Linked DNA regions of Homo sapiens. The protein of the gene in region 2 interacts with the protein of the main gene of each other region in a pairwise test. Each region holds a gene or a part of one and is shown on either strand. Other genes may lie near its edges. The genes, in order: C11orf65, DLST, USP12, EGFL8, RAB3C, NXPE1 and ARHGEF28.

What was found.
Region 1: the proteins of DLST (region 2) and C11orf65 interact in binary tests that used the Homo sapiens proteins (3 or more experiments, as listed by UniProt).
Region 3: the proteins of DLST (region 2) and USP12 interact in binary tests that used the Homo sapiens proteins (3 or more experiments, as listed by UniProt).
Region 4: the proteins of DLST (region 2) and EGFL8 interact in binary tests that used the Homo sapiens proteins (3 or more experiments, as listed by UniProt).
Region 5: the proteins of DLST (region 2) and RAB3C interact in binary tests that used the Homo sapiens proteins (3 or more experiments, as listed by UniProt).
Region 6: the proteins of DLST (region 2) and NXPE1 interact in binary tests that used the Homo sapiens proteins (3 or more experiments, as listed by UniProt).
Region 7: the proteins of DLST (region 2) and ARHGEF28 interact in binary tests that used the Homo sapiens proteins (3 or more experiments, as listed by UniProt).

The regions. Positions count from the first base shown.
Region 1 is NC_000011.10:108,387,530-108,391,029, reverse strand, and holds part of C11orf65 (protein MFI), read left to right. Parts: intron 1-3,500. UniProt on the Homo sapiens protein: Acts as an inhibitor of mitochondrial fission. Interacts with MFF and prevents DNM1L recruitment to mitochondria, promoting a more fused mitochondrial network.
Region 2 is NC_000014.9:74,895,416-74,898,915, reverse strand, and holds part of DLST (dihydrolipoyllysine-residue succinyltransferase component of 2-oxoglutarate dehydrogenase complex, mitochondrial isoform 1 precursor), read right to left. Parts: intron 548-3,500; coding exon 417-547; intron 1-416. UniProt on the Homo sapiens protein: Dihydrolipoamide succinyltransferase (E2) component of the 2-oxoglutarate dehydrogenase complex. The 2-oxoglutarate dehydrogenase complex catalyzes the overall conversion of 2-oxoglutarate to succinyl-CoA and CO(2).
Region 3 is NC_000013.11:27,070,812-27,074,311, forward strand, and holds part of USP12 (ubiquitin carboxyl-terminal hydrolase 12), read right to left. Parts: intron 339-3,500; coding exon 260-338; intron 1-259. UniProt on the Homo sapiens protein: Deubiquitinating enzyme that plays various roles in the regulation of the immune response and inflammation.
Region 4 is NC_000006.12:32,163,328-32,167,394, forward strand, and holds the start of EGFL8 (epidermal growth factor-like protein 8 precursor), read left to right. Parts: upstream 1-1,267; 5' UTR 1,268-1,330; exon of another isoform or gene 1,331-1,354; intron 1,355-2,810; 5' UTR 2,811-2,838; coding exon 2,839-2,939; exon of another isoform or gene 2,940-3,170; coding exon 3,171-3,293; intron 3,294-3,373; coding exon 3,374-3,483; intron 3,484-3,582; coding exon 3,583-3,678; intron 3,679-3,759; coding exon 3,760-3,930; intron 3,931-4,022; coding exon 4,023-4,067.
Region 5 is NC_000005.10:58,852,075-58,855,574, forward strand, and holds part of RAB3C (ras-related protein Rab-3C), read left to right. Parts: 3' UTR 1-3,500.
Region 6 is NC_000011.10:114,521,882-114,525,381, forward strand, and holds part of NXPE1 (NXPE family member 1 isoform 1 precursor), read right to left. Parts: intron 1,211-3,500; coding exon 998-1,210; intron 623-997; coding exon 87-622; 3' UTR 1-86.
Region 7 is NC_000005.10:73,632,696-73,636,195, reverse strand, and holds part of ARHGEF28 (rho guanine nucleotide exchange factor 28), read right to left. Parts: intron 1-3,500. UniProt on the Homo sapiens protein: Functions as a RHOA-specific guanine nucleotide exchange factor regulating signaling pathways downstream of integrins and growth factor receptors. Functions in axonal branching, synapse formation and dendritic morphogenesis.

The DNA.
Region 1 (3,500 bases), on a different chromosome or scaffold from region 2:
AATGAAGAAAAAGGGGGAAGAATGATCAAGACAAAGGAAAATCAAAACAAGAATAAAAGAAAAAAGAAGATACTGATGAGAAGGATAGATCAGAAAATAATAAGGAAAAGATAAAAAATAAAGGACTAAGTGTCCATAGTAGATGCTTTAAAATATTTTTAAATAAGAAGAAATTGCTATGATTCAATAACCCCAATATTTTGTGCAGACCTCAGTCTTGAGATTCCCTATAGACAGCATGTCTGTAGTTCCTGGGACACTGAACAAATGCAGATGGTAATAATGATGCAAGAAATGACAGCCAAACAAAGGAGCTGCAATGCCTTGCTTTTACTTTTCTTCCTAAGAGTAAAAATTGCTGAGTGGAAAAGAGAGGGAAGAAAGGGAAAGAGAGGTAGGAGAGGTCCATTTTGAATGAGTTTCCCAGGACTGGATAGAGAATTTTCTCAGGTGAGCTTTTGAAATCCTGCTCTGCCTTTCCCTTGTACCATTGGCCGATTCAAGCTAAGGGCCGGCAAACAAGTACAAAAAATTGATACCAGATATTCTATATTCTGTCATTACTGGAATATAAAAAGAATAAAACCATTGAGTTCAAAGGGAAGAAAAAATAGGCATCTCGGTCCACATAAGACTTTCCCCGCCATCATCCGCTAAGTGATAGTAGGTGAAGTCTTAATGGCTTCCCTTTAAAAAACAAAAAACAGGCTGGGTGTGGTGGCTTACGCCTGTAATCCCAGCACTTTGGGAGGCTGAGGCAGGTGGATCATGAGGTCGGGAGATCGAGACTATCCTGGCTAACACGGTGAAACCCCGTCTCCACTAAAAATACAAAAATTAACCCACCAAAAATTGGCAGGCACCTGTAGTCCCAGCTACTAGGGAGGCTGAGACAGGAGAATGGCGTGAACCCAGGAGGTGGAGGTTGCAGTGAGCTGACATCGCGCCACTGCACTCCAGCCTGGGCAACAGAGCGAGACTCCGTCTCAAAAATAAATATAAATAAATAAAAAATAAAATAAATAAAAAAAAAACCAGCCAGGCGAGGTGGCTCATGCCTGTAATCCCAGCGCTTTGGGAGGCTGAGGAGGGCGGATCTTGAGGTCAGGAGATCGAGACCATCTTGCTTAACACAGTGAAACCCCATCTCTACTAAAAATATAAAAAATTAGCCGGGCGTGGTGGTGGGTGCCTGTAGTCCTAGCTACTTGGGAGGCCGAGGCAGGAGAATGGCATGAACCCACGATTCATGCCATTGGGAGGCAGAGCTTGCAGTGAGCTGAGATCGCGCCACTGCACTCAAGCCTGGGTGACAGAGCGAGACTCTGTCTCAAAACAAAACAGAGCAAAACAAAAAAACCCAGGATAAACCAGTAAGACTTGAAGCAATTTCTTCATAGCATATAGGAGTGGGATGGATATACCTAGCTTTCAGATGATAAGAGCAACTGAAAATTTCCATTAAAAAAATGCAAATACCTTGCTTCCAAGTTATGTATAATTTCTATCAGTTTATCTTCTGAGTTGAGGATACTCATAATTTTGTACCAACATGGACTCTTAGCAAGGTTTTACATTGAGCCTTGAACAACAAAAATTTCAGATGAAATTTCAAGTGTGATTATCTGGGTATATTTCAGTAGCACTACTTGGCCACAAGCACTGATTATCTCAGTAAGACCAAACTTTGCAAAGGCCTTCCCCTAGCTAACTGCAGACATTAGGCATAAGCCCCTTCTTTCCAGCACATTTATGGTCTCCACAGTCTACTTCCCCGTTTGACCTTTGTAGACCTCTAGATATTTGTAACTGGCTTGGTGACACCTTGTTTGATGAAAATTTAAAAGTCTGACATTTGTCCCCTCTAGAGAATTGGTCACCCCTAATTCCTTGGAAAGTATCCTTCAACGTCTATGGACATTTTTCTACAGTTGGACAGTTAGAATGGCATAAATGCCTTGAACACTGATATTTAGTGATAACAACCAGTTTCTCCCCAAAGGCTTTTGTTCTAGTCCGTTATGACAGACCGATGCTCTCCTGAGATGAAACCATGTCCATCTTCAGATGCGTACTGCAACTATTAACCGAACATTGTTATTATCATTTGGAAGAATGGATAGAGCCAGTTTCACTAGTGGACTCAAACACACTAATGAGTACTGTTGCAAATTCCTGTATCCAGAGCTATGTTGCTGCAGCTGTTTAGAACCCAGAACAATCCCCACATCACCATCACGGAGTTATGCACAATGCCACAGGACAGCTACCGTGGCTTTTGCTGGCATTCATCCTAATGGATATTCAGATGTTCCTCTTCCAGGATCATCACGTTTTTCAAACAGCAAGTGAATTTTGACATACCTATTAAGCAATCACCAGCTAGAAAATATTAAATAATTTCCTGATACTCTGTTGGGGAGAGCTCTGTGCCTATGTCTGTTATGGATAGTTTCTATATCTGAAGCTGCTCCTTTGATTTCTAAGATATGTAGTTTTGTGACCTCTCTGGCTAGGGACTTTTTCTGAGCTCTTAAAGTGTTAAATTTGTAATTTAACAAATGGATTCATTGTAGACTGCACACACACTTGATAACTATTATCTAAAAATTTCTACAAATTTCTTCGTGAGAAAGATGAGCTCTGTGATATAAACAGCATGGTAGTGCTTTCATCAGACTTGCTTCTATGTCTGTAAAACTTAGATTTCTTATCAATTACTGCTGGTATGTTCTTTATGAGAAGTTCTTTTTAAAATAATGGAATAAAAGTCATGTGCTAATCTTGGATAAAGCAGGGACAGTGATGGGGCCTAGCTATGGTAAGTGTTTGTGCCCCAGATTGTCAGGGCTCAGCACACTATCGATCAAGGTCTTTTATCTTGGTTTCTTGAAGGTGGAATGAAAGTCTTTTCTGTGTATAAATCCAAGCAAGCAGGATGACTCTTTATAGTGCTCCTGAGCAACCACTGAAAGCACAAAGTCTGCTAAAATTTAAGGTCAAACCAAACTGAATTGCCTACTGAGAGATTGTGGAAGGAGTTACACCACCTGCTCTTGTCCTGCATCCTTTCATTTAAGTCACCCAGCAGTATCCTATTGAAGGCCATTGAAGAAAGTTCGCAGAGCACCAAGGGGTAGCAGTAGTAAGAAGGAGCCAAATTCAGACACAACGTCTGATTGTAATTAAATACTGTTGGATAGGCCAAGTGCAGTGGCTCACGCCTATAATCCCAGCACTTTGGGAGGCCAAGGTAGGTGGATCACTTGAGCCCAAGAGTTCAAGACCAGCCTGGGCAAAATACCGAGACCCCATCTCTACAAAAAATTAAAAAGTTAGCCAGGTGTGGTGACATGCATCTGTGGTCCCATCTATTCAGGAGGCTGAGGCAGGAGGATCACTTGAGCCCATTAGTTTGAGGCTGCAGTGACCCATGATGGCACCAGTGCACTGCAGCCTGGGAGACAGAGCGAGACCTTGTCTCCATAAAAATAAGTATT
Region 2 (3,500 bases):
AGTGAGGCCCATCGACCTAAGATCAAAGGTCAGCCAGGAGCCTACACCAACTGTGGAAGTCAGGCCCCAAGGTAACAGGGCCTGTGGAGCTGGGGGAGGGGAGGAAGCCAGAACACGTGCTTCCACCTTGACAGGAGACAGCCTGGAGAGCTGGGCTATCCCAGAACTGCCTGCTGCCTGAGCAGCTGCCGAGCTGTACACTGGGAAGAGAAACTGTTCTGCCCAGCTGGCGGGTAGAAAGTAATCATGATGCTGCTTCAGGAAGGTGAACCAAGAAATCCCTGGGGAAGATACTGATATTTCTATAGGTAGCAAATAAAAAGCCTTGGTCTGTTGATCCTCTGCATGTGGGAGCAGGTCTGTGCTCATACACCTACCTCCCAGGACCTCTCCAATTCCAGCCACAAGCAACTCACCTGCATTTACAACAGGCTGTTCCTGCAAGGCAAAGGCTGAGGCCTTCACAAATGCCGACATGAAGCCTAGTTTGAGGTTATGTTTCTTCAAAAAAGCCTCTTTGTGCCGAGCCCTCATCTCCTGGATGTTACTGTGAAAATATTACAAAACAAACTGACCACAAAGCCTGCATTTTGACTTTCACACAGGTTTCTCAATCCATATACACAATTAGGTGAGAGCTTTTCCCTCACTCTGGACCATTACCTTAGTTCAAGTTTTGAAATAGTCTACCTGAGGTTAACACAGTAACTCTGTTCTTTTACAAAGAAATCTACAGGAATCAGGCCCAATCTGTCTTTAAGGTGGGTTGATCTCTTTACAGGGCTCCTTCATGGTCTAGAAGTCACAGATTTCAGTGACACATCATATGAACAAGAGATCACACAGCACACCAACATCCTTGCCCTGAATAACTGAGCTATCCATCCTGAAAAAAAATTTTTTAAAGTATAAACAAAATCTACAAAATAAGCAATATTCTTTTTATTTCTTGTTAGAATACAAAAAAAAAAAAAAAACCCCACCAAATCTGAGTATAACTCCCGTGTGATATTCCTCCTATCTCTTGATTAGTGGAGACTAAAATAAACAGCTCATGGGTACATGAGGCTCCATGCGGGAAAAAGCAGTCATGACTCTGCAGGGAAGGGTATAACCCAGTGTTCTTTCAGGCCCACGGAAAGTCATATCCGTTCTTCATCTTTCCAGGGTTGGCAGTTCCATCCACTTATTCTTCCAAACAGGTACTAACACCTTACTACATGTGAGGGTCAGGGCCAGGTACCAAGATACAAAGCTAATTAAGACATAGTTCTTGCCCTAAGATTAGTTTAATGGCTGTGATTTCCTTGGTATTTAGAAAAGTGGCCACTTGTGGTTTAGGCTGGTTCCCTTCAGATTAAGCAGCAAGCCTTCTGAAAAGCCTTTACAACATGAGCAGCCTTTATTCTTTTGGGACTGGTTTTTTTTCAATGACACATTGCAGAGTTAGTGAGAAATGGCTTTCCCATCACTTTGCTGCATAAACCTCAGTATTTATCGGAATGCAGTAATGCAGTTCTACGATGAAAATTGAATTTAACTTTATCTCAGGGCCAAATGCTCAGTTCTCCCTTTCTCCCTCTAATGGCCTAATTCGACATTAGCATGAAAGGTAAGATGTGGTACAATTTTAACAGCCCCCTTCAGATCTTTTGTTTTTGAAAAAGGAAGTTTTTCCAAGGGGGACTGATTGGGTTTAAAATGCTTGTTTTCCTGATTCTAACCTTATTTAGTGCTAGGATTACCACCCTAAAGACATTACTGGTTCCCAAGACACAAGAGCTGCAGAAGAGGGAAAGAGATGTGATAAACATCTCTGCTCTCAAACCTGCCCAAATGTTATTGTCTGGTCATTAAGTAGCTTCTATTTCAGAGCTCTGCCCTTGGAGGCAAAGGCTGGGACAATAGAGGAAGGGAGAAGGTCTCAGAAAGGTCCCTTATGGGTTAGCTGATCAGCACAAGACCCAAAGGGCACTCGATCTAAACCAAATTAGGCTGCAGCAAGACCGCAGGCCATTGTTAAGTGACACCTTGATTAGCTGCTGAAAGGAGATCCAGCTATTACGCTTCCTTTCCAATCAAAGCTGTTGGGCCAACTGCATCTTTCAGGGCCACAAATATTTACATGTTTTGTCTTAAGAAACTGGGTAGAATTTCAAAGTCCAATTCAATTTGTGTACAATTTGGCCCTAATGCACTGAAACATAAGCTGCAGCCTTTGTGATTCATTAGTCAAGGTCCTTCCCCTACATCCTATGAACAAGAGAGAAATCTTTGGCTTGAATGTCATCCAGTCTCTTCGGAAAGTTTCCCAACAGAATGGATGACATCTAGTAAAACAGGTCACAGAGCCCTACTCTGAACAATGCCACAGCGCACTATCAAGAAAACACTCCCTTCTCCCTATTTTTCAAACCCTTTCCAAAGAAAAGCAAATTTCTCTAATGAAAAGTAGATTCGCAGACTAAACCCTCAGGACAAAAAGAAAGAAAGAGATGACCTGAGACTTGACTTGCTTCCTGAATTAAATATAAACTCCTACCCTGGCATTCAAAACATTCTGAAATAAGGATCCAACCTTCTTTACCATTCTTTGCTATACAAAATCCTCACAACAGAAATGATTTTTGACAATTTCTCAAATGTGTCTTCTACTTTCCCATCTCATGGTCTACACTGTTAACATCATCTGGAATGACCTTTCTCCACAAGGCTGACAAAATGCTAGTCACTCTTGAAGACCTGTTTAAAAATTCTTTTTTGGCCAGGAATGGTGGCTCATGCCTGTAATCCCAGTGGGAGACCAAAGCAGGAGGATGGCTTGACCCTAGACGTTCAGGAGACCAGCCTAGGCAACACAGCGAGACCTTGTCTCTACAAAAACTAAAAAAATTGGCCAAGCCTGGTGGCACATGCCTGTAGTGGTCCCAGCCATTTGGGAGGCTGAGGCAGGAAGATCACTTGAGCCTCCCAAGTAGCTGAGACTATAGGTCCATGCCACCATACATAATTTTTTTTTTGAGACACAATCTCGCTCTGTTGCCCAGGCTGGAGTGCAGTGGCGCGATATCAGCCACTGCAACCTCCTCCTGGGTTCAAGCAATTCTTGTGCCTCAGCCTTCCGAGTAGCTGGGATTACAGGCATACGCCACCATGCCTGGGTAATTTTTGTATTTTTAGTAGAGGCAGAGTTTCACCACGTTGGCCAGGCTGGTCTCGAACTCCTGGCCTCATGTGATCCACCCACCTCAGCCTCCCAAAGTGTTGCGATTACAAGCGCAAGCCACCGCACCCAGCCCTCACTTGGCTAATTTTTAAATTTTATGTAGAGACAGTCTTGCTATGTTGCCCAGGCTGGTTTCCAACTCCTAAGCTCAAGCGATCCTCCTTCCTCACCCTCCCAAAGCTCTGGGATTATAGGCACGAGCCATGGTGCCCAGCGTCTATCCCCACTGAATTCCACAGTACAGTACTCTGTATACAGTACGCACTCAAAACAC
Region 3 (3,500 bases), on a different chromosome or scaffold from region 2:
CCAAGTGCTGGGATTACAGGCGTGAGCCACCGCACCTGGCCTCCCTTGTTTTATTCTAGGTGTGTAAAGGTTAGGTGACCACTCAACTGCTGGGCTTGGACGTTGCAGAGTAAGAAGTAGGAATTAGACTACAATCTATAGACCCAGACATTTGTCTCATATCATCACCAGTCATATATAAATGAAAAACTATGAGAAAAAAGTGAAAAGCAACATATGCATACAACTTTCAAAAATAAGAAATTAAGAAACTACTTACTTCTACAATGTCGTCATCAAACAACAACCAAAAATCATGACTCTTAACTATTGCAATATAATGGCCTCGATTGGGACCACTAAAACAAACGAAGAAGAAGTTAATTCAATATATTTATTAATATTACTCTTTCATGCTCTAAATTTTGTTTTATAAAGAAACAGAAACAGATAAATAGCAGTAAAAAAGAACTGCTTCTTTTTTATACCCCTTACCTATTCTTGCCAAAAGAGATAAAGCTACACTGAGTTGAACTGGTCATCAATTTTAAAATCAAATAATTAGTACTCTAAGAGATATATCAGTATTCTTTTCACATACAGCTATATTACTGAAATTTTTTACTGTCTTTGTAATAATTTTCAATTTTGCTTCTATAATAAAAGACATATTTTTCTATCATTTTATAAGGGAGGGGATCACAGCAGAACATGCTGAGTTGGACTATAAAACAATGCATATAGAATTATTTCTAAGTCTCACTCCCTTGGTAATGGTTTTTTTCTTGAGGAAAGATCCAATATGATGCTTGAAACAGGCAAGGATATCAAATCCTTGGTTCCAAAATCAAGCCTGAACTTCATAAAATGTCTTTAAAAGCAAATGACCTTTGCTCAATGGTAAGTCATTATTAAGTACCTAATTCTTAATACCATTATAACTATGACTATGATTGCCCCTGCATCTCATTTCAAACAAATCTGGAATATATAAATGTAGATATACATAAAAATAAAAGAAGCATAATTCCTTTTCTTTATAAAAGGATATGACAAAGGTTTTAACCTCTTCCAGTTTAAGTATGGTTCATTATAAAGGCTCATATAATTATATTTATTAAATTGTAATTCTATAATTAATACAGAAGTTAAAATCCTTTTCAACACAAATTATTCTTTATGGTGAACACTATTTTAAAAGTAGTGACCAGATATTAGAATAAGCCACCTACTATAATATCTTATGTTTCTCAGATCATTTGATCCTGTAGGTGAGATAAATATCTTTGACAGAATGACACCAACAAAAATACTTTTTTTTTTTTAACTATGGAGGATGACACATCAAAACTTTTTCTTAAAAAAGCATTTAATGCTTTAAGTCTATTTCTGTATTTATTTAGGCTCATCTAAAGGGTCTTGTGTGTTATGGGGAGAGGGTCAGAAATGAAAACAAAATTATAAAAGGTGAAATAAAGAAAAATCAAAGAAAGGTTGCAGAACACAGGGTGGAAGGAAAGGAGGTGGGTGGGGTAAGGACTGGTAAATTGAAAAAAGTTAGGCGGCTTTTTCCTTTGGCAAAGAACTAGTTTGAGGAACAGTAGACAAAAGTTAATTTCATAAACTAAAAATGAAATGAGAGATGAAGGGCTGAACTTCCACCTAAGGAAGTTGTTTCTTAGGCATCTGATTTCTGGACATTAAACACACTCAGTTGAGTAGATACAAATGCGTAAGGTATGCAAATAACTATTGATTGCTGTGGAGATTAAAGAGATACCAACAACTGCTTGCCCAAATACCCCTTCAGTACAATAGATAACTACTCCAAAAACATAATCCAAGGAAGAATATGATATAAAAGTAGAGCCACAGGAGAGACCTCATCCAGCAAGACAGGAGGTAGAAGGGAGAGAGGGATGGGAAATCACGAAATGGTGCCCAGTTTTGACATGGGCTTGAAGGGTAATACTTAAGTCAACAAACATTTGCTAGAAGTCTCTTCTAGGCTGGGCACCGGGGACAGAGAAGGAGCAAGCTGAACTGGAACTGACATGCTGATAATGAGGCTGCGCACACCCTCCACACTTTCATATGAAGCAAATCTACAAATAAGTCTGATAAATAAAATACACAATGGAAAAAGATTCTAAAATATGATTAGTCTTTTATTAGTGAGCAAATTATTTTCTGTTTTAAAAAGCACCTGTTCTCATAAGGGAAGTAGACATACATCCTAAGAGAGTACATAAAGCACTAAGACAGGGCTAGCAATGCACGTCTAGTATTTATGTGAAGACAATGGAGCAGCACCACATGGAGACTGAGGCTGGGCAGAAGAGCGTCAAGGAAGACTTCCAGAGCGGAGGGGCAGGAAGGCATGAGGCAATGAGAGTGAGACAGGAGAAAGAGTAAGACCCTGGGGTGGGGGCGGGATACCAAAGACCTGCTGTGCAGAACTCCATCAGGAGAGAGTTCCCAGTGAAGGCAGACCACCAGGGCTGTGAGGAAAGTCAATAAACATCTCTCTGCAATTTTCTGCAACAATTCTGACAGTAGGGATTCAGACAGCTGGCAAGAGGATTTTACAGTGCTTGTGAGAACATGCTTTAAATAACTGACTGTGGAGTTCAAGTTGGGAGAAGCAAGTGAGGCCAAAGAAAAGGTTAAAAAGGGAAAGGGTCAAGAGACTTAAGGATTTAAGGCTGGGGAAAGAGTTGGGTTAATTTTAAAAGGGGAGAGTGGGGAGGGGACCCCTCCCCAATGAGTCAGGCATCTCAGCTCAGTATATTGTGAGTAGAGCAATTCTAAAAATCTAGCATGATTTAAGTAGAGTAGGACTGTCACTAAATTTGAAGAGGCTAATCGGTGTGAGAAAGTAAATATTATAAAGCTAAGATGTGAGAAGGTAATATTACATTTTTGTTAATAGAACAGTAGCAGTAGCTAAGCGATTTACATCTCCCTTTGAATCCTAACAAAGCAATGTGGTAATTAGTATTATTTACATTTTCTAGAAGAGAAAACTGAAGGCTTTTCAGGAAGCTATGCATAACGTTACACTGCCCACAATTGGCAGAAATGGTACTGAGATCCAAGTTTCTCTCACTCTGAAAACCCGGTCTGAATCACTACACCAAGGTTCTTTAAGTAATCTTGACACTGCTTCACTCCTTTAAGATGTGATCACTCTTAATTTAGAAGTAGAAGAAAGATTCTTGCTGAGGATAAAAGACGGGACCCAAGGCTGACCCAGGCAATGGAGGAAGAAGACGATTATTAAAGAGCATTTGCTCCCTCCAGATTGTCCTTAAAAATTCTCATCAGAGGCCGGGCGCGGTGGCTCACGCGTGTAATCCCAGCACTTTGGGAGGCCGAGGCGGGCAGATCACGAGGTCAGGAGATTAAGACCATCCTGGCTAACATGGTGAAACCCCGTCTCTACTAAAAATACAAAAAATTAGCCGGGCGTGGTGGTGGGTGCCTGTAGTCTCAGCTACTCGGGAGGCAGAGGCAGGAGA
Region 4 (4,067 bases), on a different chromosome or scaffold from region 2:
TCTCCTTCCAGGCCACTCAGGACATTTTTAGCTTCTCTCCTCCCCATGTTCCCTTTTTTCTCTAAAGTCCCCTGACATCAGCCCTCCCAACTCCTAAGAGGGACTACCCATGAGAGTGGGGTTCTGAGGCTCCCCTATGGGGACAGTTCCGTTCTTGAAGTGTCAGTGTTGGGGAATATCTGTGGCCTATGAGGCCCATCTCAGGTTTGGGGATCCCCCAGTCCCTATGATCAGTGTTGGAGTACCCCCCTGGGAGAGCCTAGTTTCTTTGAGGCCCCAGGCCCTCTTTTAACTACCTTTGAATAGGTGTTATCCCTGTATTTATGGAAATAAAGTTCCATTTCCTCAGTGTGACTTGGCTCATTTCCAGGTGGAGGGGACCTGGCTCCCCAAGGAGGGTGGGGGTGGAGCCTGAGGCCTGGGTGCCCAGATGCCTGGTCTAGGGTGGGGACCCCCTTGGTGTTTCCGCTCTCTCTCAATGCCCATTCTTTGTGGGTTCCTGGTTCTCTGCGGGTTCTTTCCTGCTGAAGACAATTCTCTTCCTCTCCCAGTCCCCAAGACTGGGGGGTTAAGCTCAGGGCTCCAGTGGTTTGGGCCTCAGCCTCATGGGTGGAATGCGCCTGCCACCCCCAGGCTAGACGAGGGGGCAGAGGGTCAGGGTGGGCATTCGTTGTGCCGCTTTTGAGCTTTGTGGGCCAGAGCTGGGTGTAGGGCTGGACAATGAGCCTCCTCTTCCTTGAAAGAAGGAATTTTGGCTGAGACAATAGGGCCCTGTCTGTTCTGGCATGGGGGGTGGTGGCTGACTCAATTCTGTTCCCCCTAAGCCCTAACAAATGTCATGAAGAGAGGGGGGCAGTTTTCCCCTTGGTGCCCTGGGCTGCCCCCCTGCCCCTTTGTGACGACTTGCCCTTCTAGCTTTCCTCAGCTGATCTTGCTTTTTCTCCCATAACCTGAACTGCTTTGTTCCCTGCAGCTGGTTCTCTCCCTGCCCCCTAACTCTCCCCTAGTCTGTTTTGGGTTCAAGGGGGTACTGGTGGTGTTACAGAGCTCATAGCTTCTGATCTGGGGAGTCCAGAAATAGGGGCCTCAGAGGGTTGGAAAGATACTTCTAGGGAGCCCTTTGCTGGGGTGGGGATGAGGGTAGTGGGACTTGACCCTACTGAGCTGACCCTGCTGGAGCTAAGGAGGAGGCTTGTGGGAGGGGGCAGGAATGGGAGGACTCTCTGGCCCAGCCCCTCCTCTCCTTCTTAGCCTGCCAGGCCCACCCACCAGTCTGAGCTGCTTCTGCTGAGGCTGGTCTGCTTGAAGCCTCCCAGGAGAAAGAAGCCAGGTGGGAATGGAGAGAGAGAGGAAGGCAAGTGGGGAGAGAATTTCAAATGGGGAAAGAGTGGGGTTTACTCAGAGCCTTAGGGTGGGCATGAGTTGCGGGGTGTTTTGTTGGAGCAAGGGATGTGCATTTAGGGCGTTATGTGACGGTGTGGGTATATGAGGGGAGTAGCAGTGTGTGAAAGGTGTGGAGTTTCCAGGTGCTTGGTTTGTGTGTACGGTGTGAAGGTATATAGCTAGGGGTTTTTTTTGTTTGTTTGTTTTGTTTGTTTTTTTGAGACGGAGTCTTGCTCTGTCGCCCAGGCTAGAGTGCAGTGGCATGATCTTGGTTCACTGCAACCTCTGCCTCCAGGGTTCAAGGGATTCTCCTGCCTCAGCTTCCCGAGTAGCTGGGATTACAGGCGTCCACCACTGCGCCTGGCTAATTTTTTGTATTTTTTAGTAGAGATGGGGTTTCACCATCTTGGCCAGGCTGGTCTCGAACTCCTGACCTCATGATCCACCCACCTCAGCCTCCCAAAGTGCTGGGATTACAGGTGTGAGCCACCGCGCCCAACCAGCTAGGGTTTTGAAGGTATGAAGTTATAAGAGGGCATGTTAAAGACAGGAGGGTTGGCCAGGCATGGTGGCTCACACCTGTAATCCCAGCACTTTGGGAGGCCAAGGCAGGCGGATCACCTGAAGTCGGGAGTTCGAGACCAGCCTGACCAACATGGAGAAACCCCGTCTCTACTAAAAATACAAAACAAAATTAGCCGGGCGTGGTGGCAGGCGCCTGTAGTCCCAGCTACTCGGGAGGCTGAGGCAGGAGAATGGCATGAACCCGGGAGGCGGAGCTTGCAGCAAGCCGAGATCGCACCACTGCACTCCAGCCAGGGTGACAGCGAGACTCCGTCTCAAAAAACAACAACAAAAAAAAAACCAAAAAAAAAAAACCCTAGCTATATACCCTCACACCCTACAAAACAAAACAAAACAAAATTAGCCAGGCGTGGTGGCGCATGCCTGTAATCCCAGCTATTTGGGAGGCTGAGGCAGGAGAATCACTTGAACCTGGGGGGCGGAGGTCGTGCGGTGAGGCAAGAACATGCCATTGCATTCCAGCCTGGGTAGTAAGAGCGAAACTCCTTCTCAAAAACAAAAACAAAAAAAAACCCAAAAAAAGACAGGAGGGTCATAAGGGGAGGGTTGACTGTGTGTCCCTCCAGGTTGTGCAGAGGGGATTAGAAGTAAGTAGGTTAGAGGGGAGGTGGAGGGAGTGTGCTGGGGTGTGAGCTTTTATGATGCTGAAAGGATCATGATATGCTAAGGACAGGATAGTGTTGGGTTGTACACACAGGTGTAGGCAATCCTGGTGGCTAGTATGTAAAAGTGAATGTCCTGACTCCCTTAGAGGGTACCTGCAGAGTGCCCTTGGAGGGACTAGTGCTGGAGAAATTAATAGGAGAGGGGACGGGCATCCATTAACCTTTTCTTGCCTGCAGCCTGTAGGGTCCAGCGTCAAAGCGAATCATGGGGTCCAGGGCTGAGCTGTGCACTCTCTTAGGCGGATTCTCCTTCCTCCTGCTACTGATACCAGGCGAGGGGGCCAAGGGTGGATCCCTCAGAGAGAGGTGACAACAGAGGGGGTAGGGCCCGGGGTGAGCTCTTCTCAGGAGCCTTCTGCTGGGGGTGGGGCTTCACAGGAGGCAAAACATAACTGTAAGTTTAGAATGGGGGTGAGAGGCTGTCATCTGGAGGGAGAGCGGGGGGCCTCAGTAGCCTCTTGAGGGAAGTGGGACTCCTGGCTCCCCAGGGCCTGGCCTACTCAATCTCTCCCACCTCATCCTCTGGCATGGACGCAGTCAGGGAGTCTGCTCCAAGCAGACACTGGTGGTCCCGCTCCACTACAACGAGTCCTACAGCCAACCAGTGTACAAGCCCTACCTGACCTTGTGCGCTGGGAGGCGCATCTGCAGCACTTACAGGTGAGGGATGGGGAGATGGGACCCCAAGAACCCCAACTAGGACCCGTACTCAGGGTCCTGAGCCGGGCGCTGTGTTCCAGGACCATGTACCGCGTTATGTGGCGGGAGGTGAGGCGGGAGGTTCAGCAGACCCATGCAGTGTGCTGCCAGGGCTGGAAGAAGCGGCACCCGGGGGCGCTCACCTGTGAAGGTGAGGCTGGGTCTTCCGGGCCTTGCGGGAGGCGCGCCCCACGGAGCTGGGGAGCTGGGTCGTCGGTTTGAGTCTGAACCCCACTTCCTCTGTCCTCAGCCATCTGCGCCAAGCCTTGCCTGAACGGAGGCGTCTGCGTTAGGCCTGACCAGTGCGAGTGCGCCCCCGGCTGGGGAGGGAAGCACTGTCATGTGGGTGAGTCAGCTTGTCCTCCCCACCTACCCAGGTGCTTGCCCCCGCCCCCTCTCTCAGCCCCTTCCTTTTTTCGGTAACTAGACGTGGATGAATGTAGGACCAGCATCACCCTCTGCTCGCACCATTGTTTTAATACGGCAGGCAGCTTCACCTGCGGCTGCCCCCATGACCTAGTGCTAGGCGTGGACGGGCGCACCTGCATGGAGGGGTCCCCAGAGCCCCCAACCAGTGCCAGCATACTCAGCGTGGCCGGTGAGTGGGCAGGAGTACGGGCCACCCGAGGGACTCGGGACGGGCGTCCGGGCTCGGGTAGTGGTCACACTCTTGGTCTCCTTTGTCCCTAGTTCGGGAGGCGGAAAAAGATGAGCGCGCTCTGAAGCAGGAGATTC
Region 5 (3,500 bases), on a different chromosome or scaffold from region 2:
TTTTTCCACTGATCCTTCCCAATTCTGTGAATATTCAACATCATTGAACAGATTGAGACATATCTACTGAATGCCAGTTATGCAACAAGCATTTTAACCAAGAAGGGTATGAGTAGCTATGGAATTCCAAGGTCCAAGCCCCCTTATTTTTCAATGACTTGCCTTCCCCAACCCCCATAATGCACACCACCACCACCATCACTTTCTGGAACCATCACCAACTCTTGGACTAGAGCTTATGTTGAAGCTTGTTAGGGCTCCTCTTTCCGTAGGATGTAGACTTGCCTCCCCAAACACGGCCATCTTCTCAAACCTCAGCTAAGTTCTTTTACCTGTTTAGATGCTATTTAAATCAGATTTCAAAGGGTCCCCAGTTGAGAAAAAGGAAAATTTTAATCTTTAATCATCTTTTTAAGTCCAGATGTTCATAAATTCTAAAGCATATTCCTATTACGTGAATGCTTAAGTTACACAGGAAACATTCTATAACTGTAGTATTTCAATTTCAGAAATATTTAGGATCCATAGCAATTTAAAAGAGGGAGGAAACCACTGGAGCATTCTAATTTTGTATCACAAACTTCCTAAAGGACCTATATGAATAAAGAGAAAACAACAAATCCTACCAGCTGTACAGAGAGCAACAGGGAAATTTGGCCTCTGTATCACTGTCCAGCATTATTTAAAGCTAGGATTTAGGAAGGAAGCAGGAATTATTTGGCAGATTTGGAAGGATAGTTTCGTTAAGTGAACTTTCTACTTTTTTGGTGGTTATGTCAAAGAATTTTTTTCCTCTTCTCAAAAATAGAGAGGCTTCCCATGAAAGTATTGGATGCAAATGAAACAGGCATACATCTAAAGATATCTTTGGAGAATAAATCCTTACAAGTCACAGAACTAGGTCACACACATTAGTAAGTCAAAAGTTGGAAATTAGGGGAGAGAGCATTTGGAATGCTTTAAGCATTTCCATGTTATTTCTCACCTTCCTAGTTGAAGATCCACTAATCAGTAGTACATTTCTACTTTGGTGCCCTACAAAGCAAACCTTAGCATAGTAAAGACAAGAAAACATTAATGTTTTATTAGTTTTTAATGGGGCAACCAACTTCAAAATCACAGGAATTACAGTGACGGGAGAGAAAGAAGCAGGAGGCATAAAAACAGATTTGTTTGTAGCAGTAGTCTGTTTGTACAATGTTATAATATTTCTGTAACTTGGGCCAGAATGTGGCCATGTTAAATGATATAGCTATTAAGCTCACTTTTACAATCTAAAAGGAACTAATAAAGCCAGGAAACCCTTCTCATCCTCCTTCACAGCCCTCATCCCACACATAGATGTAAAAAGCTTAGAAAGAATATTCTGATGGCTTTTTCAGAAGGAAGGACCTTGATGTGTGTATTGTGGTAAAATGAAAAGCAAAATGAGACAGTATTTAAAAGTGAAAGAGCAGAGTTTTGCTCTGCTGAAAACCCCTTCCCTGAAGAACTGATTGCTGTTGAAGTTAATTGGCCCTTAGATGGGAAGCCCTAAGCCAAGCTCCCACTTACACAGTGTCAAACATCCCGAAGTGGAAACATTTTATGCCAGTCAGGGGAGAGACAGGCAACAATAGCCCAAATGTCATTGCCAAGAAACATCTGATACTTTCTAATTTCTAAACCCCAATGGAAGTGAGGCCTTTTTCATTGATTCTCAGTTCTGAAACTCCCACCCTGTTAGGATTTCCATTCCAAATAATTCAATGAGAGGTTTCCAGAGAAACAGTCACAGAGCTCAAGAGAAAGAACACTTAAATGCTCCTGCTGTAATTGCATCAAAAAATCCGGGTTTTAACATCAAATTTGGCAAATGGTGGGACCAACCCAAGGTTAACTAAGTGGGCTTTCATTGGCATTGAGCTATGTTACTTATAAATTATAACACTATAGTTCCAAGGTTTTTCAGCCTTTTGGCCAACACACACACACACACACACACACACACACACACACACTATACCATCATCTATCAATAGTCTAAATACATAAATAAATGCAGGTCATTTTTATCAATGGCCTAACTAAATTTATATTTAAAAGAACAAGACTTTTAAAAAGTACATACTCCTGTTGGTTTGTAAGTTATACACATTTATCTCTTGTCTTTGATTTAATTAAATTAGTGTTTTAAGTATGAATTTATTTTCCTTTGCTACTCATTACCTGACCACTTTCACTCCTCTAGATACCCTTAGGAATAAACCTGAACTGTTCCAAATCGATTCTTCCAAGAGCTTTGGTGTTGGTACCTTCCTTTCTTTTCCTAATGCAACTGAAAAATTAGACTGAAAATTATTTGACTTAAATAGCCATCCTCAGAGTGAATCAGCATTTCAGTTTTTGGAGATGGGGATGGAAGTAGAAGGTGCACAAAGCGTCCTAAGATGGCAGTTTGAATGTTAGCATCGCATCTACATGCTCATAAGAGGAATTGCTTCAGGACAATGAATCAGTTCATTGTTGCTGCCCCCAGTGAACAGCTCCAACTGCCTTGATGAACTTCTAATGACTGTGAAAGCTAGGAGGTTCTTCTAGTTCCTCCTTAGGGTCACTTGAAGTTCAGTATTTTTTTGCTGCCTGGTAACTAAGTGCTAAGATTTTTACTTGGAAAGAAAACTATGACAATGCCTTCAGTTGTAGCAGAAAGTTGTGGCATTGTGATAATAAACAAAATCTACAAAGTTACAACCCAAATTATACAAGACATCAAAACACTCAGTAAACAAATATATATATTTCACCTACTTAAATCTTATTCATATTAATTATAGGCCTTTTGTTTAGTACACTGGTTATTTTTTAAGGAACCAATTTAAACTTTCAATTTTAAATACATCTATGCTGACGATAGACTTTCGGGTATATACAACCTTCTTCTTCTCTTTTAAAAGTTAAATACATTCCACTATTAACTGAACTTCCATGAAGCAACATTAATTTTAGAGCATGGTAGTCCATAATCAGTGGTTCATTGTGATGTGCTTTATCCAACATGTATCTTAGTGCATGGTTGAGGATGTACTATGTGATATTTTAGTTAACAGTGTGGCATTTGTGGGACTATATTAAAAGCATATCCAAACTACCAAGCTATACCAAGCTGAGGTAGGTAACACCTGCATGTGAAAAACTGTGATATGAATCTTATTTATAAAAAAGTCATAACTAAAACCCTTCTAGACCAAAAAGTTACTGTGTGTTTGTTAATAATCTTCATAGTACTACTGGAATGCTCAATCAGTTATTTTTGGTGTGGCATACTTCAGAGCTGGCCTGTCCGTCTGAAGAACCCTTTCTCTCACAATTACAGTTTGCATGACTAGAACCCGGAACTCTGTTCCTTTGCGTGTATAGTCACTTAGTGTGCTGTCCGGGTGCCACATGAGCAACTACACCCATGTGGCCTTTCTGTCACTCCCTGGAAAATGCAACCTCTACAGCTCTGCTCAGCTCTG
Region 6 (3,500 bases), on a different chromosome or scaffold from region 2:
CCTAAAATGAGTAAAACTTACTTTACAATACATGTGGGATTATGTGCAGAGATTGGTTCCTAGTGATTTTGTATAGTATTTATCCCTTAGCAAATGTAGTTTAAGAACATGTTAATCTGATTTCCAATCACATGATCAGGTGGGTGGATAGTGTCAGTGCCATATGCAATGGTCATGTCCCAGGCATCAATGATGCCCACGTTGAGGTCTTTGAAAATATCCTTCATGATAAGATAGTGAATATAACCATGGAAGTCTCCAAACCTCTCTGTCTCTATGTGCATCTCCCTGATGTTTTCTGTCTTAATAATCACTTTAGTGGCTGGGCTTCTTAGGAACAGTCTTTCAATAGCCTTTTGAACACCGATGGCCCTGCGAATAAAAATGTCAATGGGAAATGGTCTAAAGTGCTGGCCAAAGGTGATGACGATGGCTGTGTTTTTGTCACCTGATAGCCGGTCAATTTCCCGAGGGATATAATCATGATCTATCAGAGAGTAGAGCTGGAAAGTGACGAAGGGATAGCTATGTTTTTTCCATTGAATCTGAGTGTGTCTTTCTGCATCCAGAAGCAAATGTTTCTTAAAGATTCCAGTTTCATGAAGATCAAAAAACTTCAGTGCTGATAAAAAAACAAATAGATGTTTTAAATAGAAGATAATGGTTAATATTCATGAAAAAGAATGTCCTATCATTTAAAATACCCACCCTACCTAGATAATTGCTCACTGGAGCCTTTCTACTCTCTAGGGTACAGTACCCCCAGTTCATACATGTAAAATGTCAATCAAAAATGTAAAGTTTTCACTGGAATTTTAAAAGAAGACCAACATTTCTTATGAAAGAAGGAATAAAATACATTTTAAATGTAAAGGTTCAAATCCAGAGAGCCAAATGAAGTAAAAAACAAAATAGCTCAAACGAGAGAATAGAGACCTCATTAAAAGTACTTTAAAACCAGCCTGAATTTCTAAGAGAATATAAAGTAACTACCTACTTTTTACAACTTTGGGGAAGTAGTAGATCCACTGACGTAGTGTAGAGTCTCCCAGGAGGTAAATGAGTTTGCCTTTCAAACAGCCATTTATCTTAATTGTGTCTAACTGAACCTGGTTGCAAAATGTTGTTATCCATTTTCCTTGTAAAGTATAACCACCAGGGACAGGAGGCTTCATTCCAACTTGGCATGTCTCTTCTATTTTTTCTCTCTCTGGTAACAAAGACACTCGTAAATGATTTTATTGGCAAAACTTAGACATCTAGCCTTCTTTCCTGGTCTTTCATTTTCTTGCTCTCTTTCCCCCTTCCTGTAATGCCTATTTCCTTTTTCTGTCCCTTTCTAGTCCTATTCTTTGATCATTAGCTTTGCTTCAGGCACTTCTGCTTATTCCTTTAAGAGATTTTGAGTCATCTTGCCTTCTGTCTAATTCCTTTCCTCCTAAATTTGGTCATGAGCTAAATCTTGACGTTCTATCCTTTCTTTGACGTTCTATCCTTTTTTCCTGACTCTGTGGTGACTTCTGTCTTTGTCTCTTACCCAAATGATGTTAGTGGTCTGCCAGTTGGTGCCGCTGTATAAAATTCTTTACCTTTGTTTCATTAATGAAGGAATGAATAATCTTAATTTTTCCGTGTTCAAAAAATGGCTTAAAATATGTACATTAAATATAAAAACCTCAAATAGTATAATAGTCACCTAGCTTGACAATTTTTTGTAAAACCAGACTTTGCTAAAAGCAACATGCAACATCCAATACAAACCAATATTCTGAGATAATCCAGGAAGTTTCACTAGAGTTTCAGGCTCTGTTTGCACATGGTCTGCCTTCTATTACAGGTAGGTAGCAGTGAAGCAAATGTCTTGTTATGGCATAACAAAGGGCATCCAATTTCTCCTGTCATGTTTCCTTACCACTCTCTATGCTGCCATCCCATCACTGAGCCAATGCCTTGTATTTTAGGATTTGTTATATCAGGACTTCTATACTGATACTACGTTCTGTATGAGATAGGAAACCAGTTTGAATGCTGTAAGAAAGACCAAGATAATAATGACTTAAAAATAAAAGATTATTTCTGTCTCACATAACAGGCCTGGAGTGAGAAGGCCAGGGCTAATATGCCATTGCATGGTGTCAGGGACTCTTGTTCCTTCTATGTTGTGGCTATGACATTCTTACTGTGTGGCTTTAATCTCATGGTCTAACTTGGCTCTTGCTGTTCTCACATTATATCTAAAGTTCGGCTAGTAGTAAGGGAAGAAATGGATAGGGAGGGCCAGTTGTTTTGCTTTTAAAGCATGACCTAGAAGTTTCCCACTTGCACTTCTGGAAAAAACTTAGTCATGGCCACAACTAGATATAAGAAAGGATAGCCATGGGTCTAGCCACAACTGGTTTCTATTACTAAAGAAGGAGAAGGCAGTGAGTATTGGGGAACCATCAGCAGTTTCTGCTTTACCCTCCTTGCTTAGTTCCTCAGAGGCCTTGCAGTCTCTGGCTGCCTATGTCCACAGAATAGTGCATCATTACATGGTTGTATTGTATTTGTAACCTATGGACAAAGTGGTAAAATGGTGCTGGTGGCAGAATTGGAAAGTGCACTTGGAATAGCTCTTAAGTCCTGGTGATTTGGCTTACTAAAGGGAGTTTGTATAATCCTATAATTATGTTGGAATTACAGTGTGATATTGATGGGTTTCTATGAGGCTTGATAGCATTGCACCCTAGATGATTGAATACCATGACCCTGGAAACTTGAGATTCATAGTTATTAAGTATTCTTTATCCTAATAATGTACTGGCACACTTTGCTGAGAACATAGCCTTTAAGTGTATTGTTGTAAACCCTATGTTGTGTAATCTTTATGTGTCAGGTATTCATTTTGCCACGTCTCAAACTTATAACAAATTTGCTTATGATTACTCTTACATGTTTATTTTACTTAATAGTTTTAGAATAAGCTTGAGCATTTTGAACAGTATGTGGGTAATAATATCAGGATTCTGTATATCAGGCAAAAGCAACTCCATTTTAGATGCTAATCTGCTATGTTGGCTCCTGATTAACCCCGGTTTATCTAGTGTTTCTTGTATAACAGCAGATAATTATGGTAAATCTTGCCCGTAGGTCAAACAGCCTTGGTGGTATTGTACTTCAATTGTCCTGTACATCCCATCTGAACCACCCTTCCCTTATGCTCTGTAAGCCCTAGATCTGGGGGTAATGGTGTGGAGATCCACCATCTTGTCTCAACAATGGAGACATAAACATGGCTTCTGCTTGTAAGTCCCTACTAAATGTTTCGAGAAACTGGATGTGTCAGACTCTTTTTTGGCCTCTCAGCTTCCTCAAACTTTGGGAGTAGGTTTGCATAGACCTGCCCACTGAGAAATAGATTCCATTATATTTTTTATTAGATAGGGAGACTAATAGTCCCCCAAAGATATCCACATCCTAATTCTTAAAACCTGTGAATATGTTGAAGCAGAAGATATAAA
Region 7 (3,500 bases), on a different chromosome or scaffold from region 2:
TAGTTGAAATCTTAAGCACCTTTTTATTAACACTAAAACATTTTTACAAGAAGACTAAAAATCAAAGGACATAAGACCTTTGTCTCATAATAAACAAATTTCTGTCCAAGTTGGAACTTTTCTAACTAAACATCAAGGAGTCCTTGATACTGTTTTATTGTCAGTGAGCAAGATATCAATATTTCTGGTGATCAAATGGGAGAAGAAACAATATACATGTATTTTATATAACAGTTACATATGTCAGGAAACATAGAACTTAAGAGAAATACTTCTATTTCACTCCCCCTTAAAAATCCGTCAGTTAAAACCCTATTAAAGCATTGGCAATGCGTTTTGTGCATTGTTCTTTTTCTCCAAGAATAGGAATGGCCAGCTGAATCCTGCTACATCTCTAGGGGCTGTGATAACTGCTATAAAAGCAACTTCCAGAAATCCATTCCTGAAGTTTTTGACAAGTTGCAAAGTTGACAACTCCGTGAAAGACAACACTTACATTAGATGAGCTGATTCTTATACCTAAATGTGGGTTTCTGATAATAAAAAAGGAGACAGGTTATTCCACAGAGTGATAAACCTGGACTTTAATTTCCCTACTACACTACCATATCCAAATTCCATCTCCACCAAGCTTTATAAATAGCCAATGAAATCACTACCTAAAGAAATCATCACAGTTTATAGAAACAACCAAAGTCCTTCTATTTGGAAAAGACATTGATTCTTGGAGATATGAAGAGATTACTTTCAATGAGCTCAAGACTAAAGCCAGGTCTCCTGATTCCTAGGTGTGTGCTATTTTCCACTCATACATAAATGATAAAAAAAAAATGGCTTTCTTTCTTTTTTTTGAGATGGAGTTTCACTATTGTTGCCCAGGCTGGAGTGCAATGACGCGATCTCGGCCCACTTGCTACCTCCGCCCCCTGGGTTCAAGCGATTCTCCTGCCTTAGCCTCCCGAGTAGCTGGGACTATAGGCATGTGCCACCATGCCTGGATAATTTTGTATTTTTAGTAGAGACGGGGTTTATCCATGTTGGTCAGACTGGTCTCGCACTCTCCACCTCAGGTGATCCACCTGCCTCGGGCTCCCAAAGTGCTGGGATTACAAGCGTGAGCCACTGCACCCGGCCCATGAATGGCTTTCTTTTTACTCTCTTCCCTGGCCCTTTGCAAGAACAAACATGAGGGAGTCATGCTCTTTAGAATTGTATCAGACAGTCTAAAGGCCCAAATAACCTGAGGTTTCCTAAAAATCTAAGGATACTAAAATTTTTATTTCAACTATTTTTAAAACCAGAATGTCAAGAAAGGAATAGGTTGGCTTGGGGCTGGTGATAGAGCATAGAAGACTGATCAAGAAAAGAGATTTCCTCCATGTCTATTTGTATTTTGTCTCCTTTTAGAAAGGAATGATTTTTTAATTAAAAAGGAGAGAAAGAACATCTCTAAGTGAGAAAGTCCATTGTAAGAGAGCATCAAGCTGGTCTGAATCAGTTCCAGGCTGCTGGACATGCCAGGATAGTAAAGAATCTGATGAGATTTCCTAACCATAATCCATCAGGAACTGTGGACAATGACAGAGGGATTCGATACAGGAGACAAGCACATGTCATTCCAACTTTCAAAACGGCAGATTCTACAAATTATAGACAGAAGGCATTTCATGTTGATCCTAGATTAAGATTCTAGAGCAGATTATTAAAAGTGTGGTGTATGAGGACCTCGAAGAAAAAGCAGTGGCATTTTGGAGCCAGTGTGTGCTCCCAAAGAATAAGTCACTTGAGAATAACCCCATTTTATTATGTGGTGATAATTTACCAGACTGTTAGACAAAGAGATATAATAGACACAGTATATATCTTTATGAGGAGATGGGGGATTAAGAACCAGATGCTGATACAAATAAGTAGTAATTAGTTGAACAAGCCTACTTGAAATTGATAAACATCAACCTGAACTGAAGTTTGCATAGACACATCAAATGGCTCTGCCCTAGATTTCAGCCTAAATAACACTTTTATTGTTTCCTCAGGCATTGAATAAATGTTTATCAAACCTATGGATACCTTGAGACTAAAAGGGGTAGTGAATATGAAAAATGTATAAACACTCTAAAAGACTAGGAAAAAATGGTCAAATACAGGAAAATAAATTCAAGAAAGATAAATATTAAGATTATTCATAAGACTAAAAACCCAATTGCACAATTCCATGAATGAGGATATATGGCTCCATAGCAACATACATAAAAAGAAACTAATTTTGAGATGACTATGAACGTGGAAACTCAACAGTACAGTTAAGAAATACTTTTAGGCCAGGCATGGTGGCTCATGCCTGTAACCCCAGCACGTTGGGAGGCCAACGGGGGTAGATCACCTGAGATCAGGAGTTCGAGACCAGCCTGGCCAACATGGTGAAACTCCGTCTCTACTAAAAATATAAAAATTAGCTGGGCATGGTGGCATGCACCCCTAATCCCAGCTATTTAGGAGGCTGAGACGGGAGAATTGCTTGAACCCAGGAGGCGGAGGTTGCAGTGAGCTGAGATCACACCACTGCACTCCAGCCTGGGTGATGGAACGAGACTCTGTCTCAAAAAAAAAAAAAAAAAAAAAAAATTAAAGGTATTGTTTATTGAGGAGTTATTCTCTTAGGTTCTGTGCTAAACACTTTATATAGACTATCTTATTGAGTCCTTTTTACAATCTTATGAGAGAAATAGACAAAAACTGAGGCTAAAAGTTTAGGTGACTTGGCCAAGACAAGCTAGAAGCAGCAGGCCATGAGTCTCCCCAAGTCTCTCTGACCTGCAGCTGCTAATCTTAACCATGAGGTGTCACTTCTTCCCTAGAAGAAAGGGGGACAGATCTGTGCTCTACACCAGAGGTCCCCAACCCCTGGGGCCAAAGACCAGTACAGGTCCATGGCCTGTTAGGAACCAGGTCACACAGCAGGAGTTGAGCAGTACGCAAGAGAGTGAAGCTTCATCTGTATTTACAGCTGCTCCCCATCGTTCACTTTACTGCCTGAGCTCCACCTCCCGTCCGAGCAGTGGCAACATTAGATTCTCATAGGAATGCGAACACTACTGTGAGCTGTGCATGCAAGGGATCTAGGTTGGGGACTTCTTATGAGACTCTAATGCCTGATGATCTGTCACCGTCTCCCATCAGCCCCAGGTAGGACCATCTAGTTGCAGGAAAACAAACTCAGGGCTCCCACTGATTCTACATTATGGTGAGTTGTATTATTATTTCATTATATAAAATGTACAATAAACATAATGCACTTGAATCATCCTGAAACCATCCCCCTCACCAAAGTCCATTGAAAGACTGTCTTCTACAACACGAATCCCTGGTGTCAAAAAGGTTGGGGACTGCTGCTCTACACCGTCAGATAGCATCTGGAAGAACTATACTTTAAAAAGAAAATAGTGAATTGGAATATGTCCAATATTCAGGTTTGTGAAAGGATTCAAAATCATGTCACT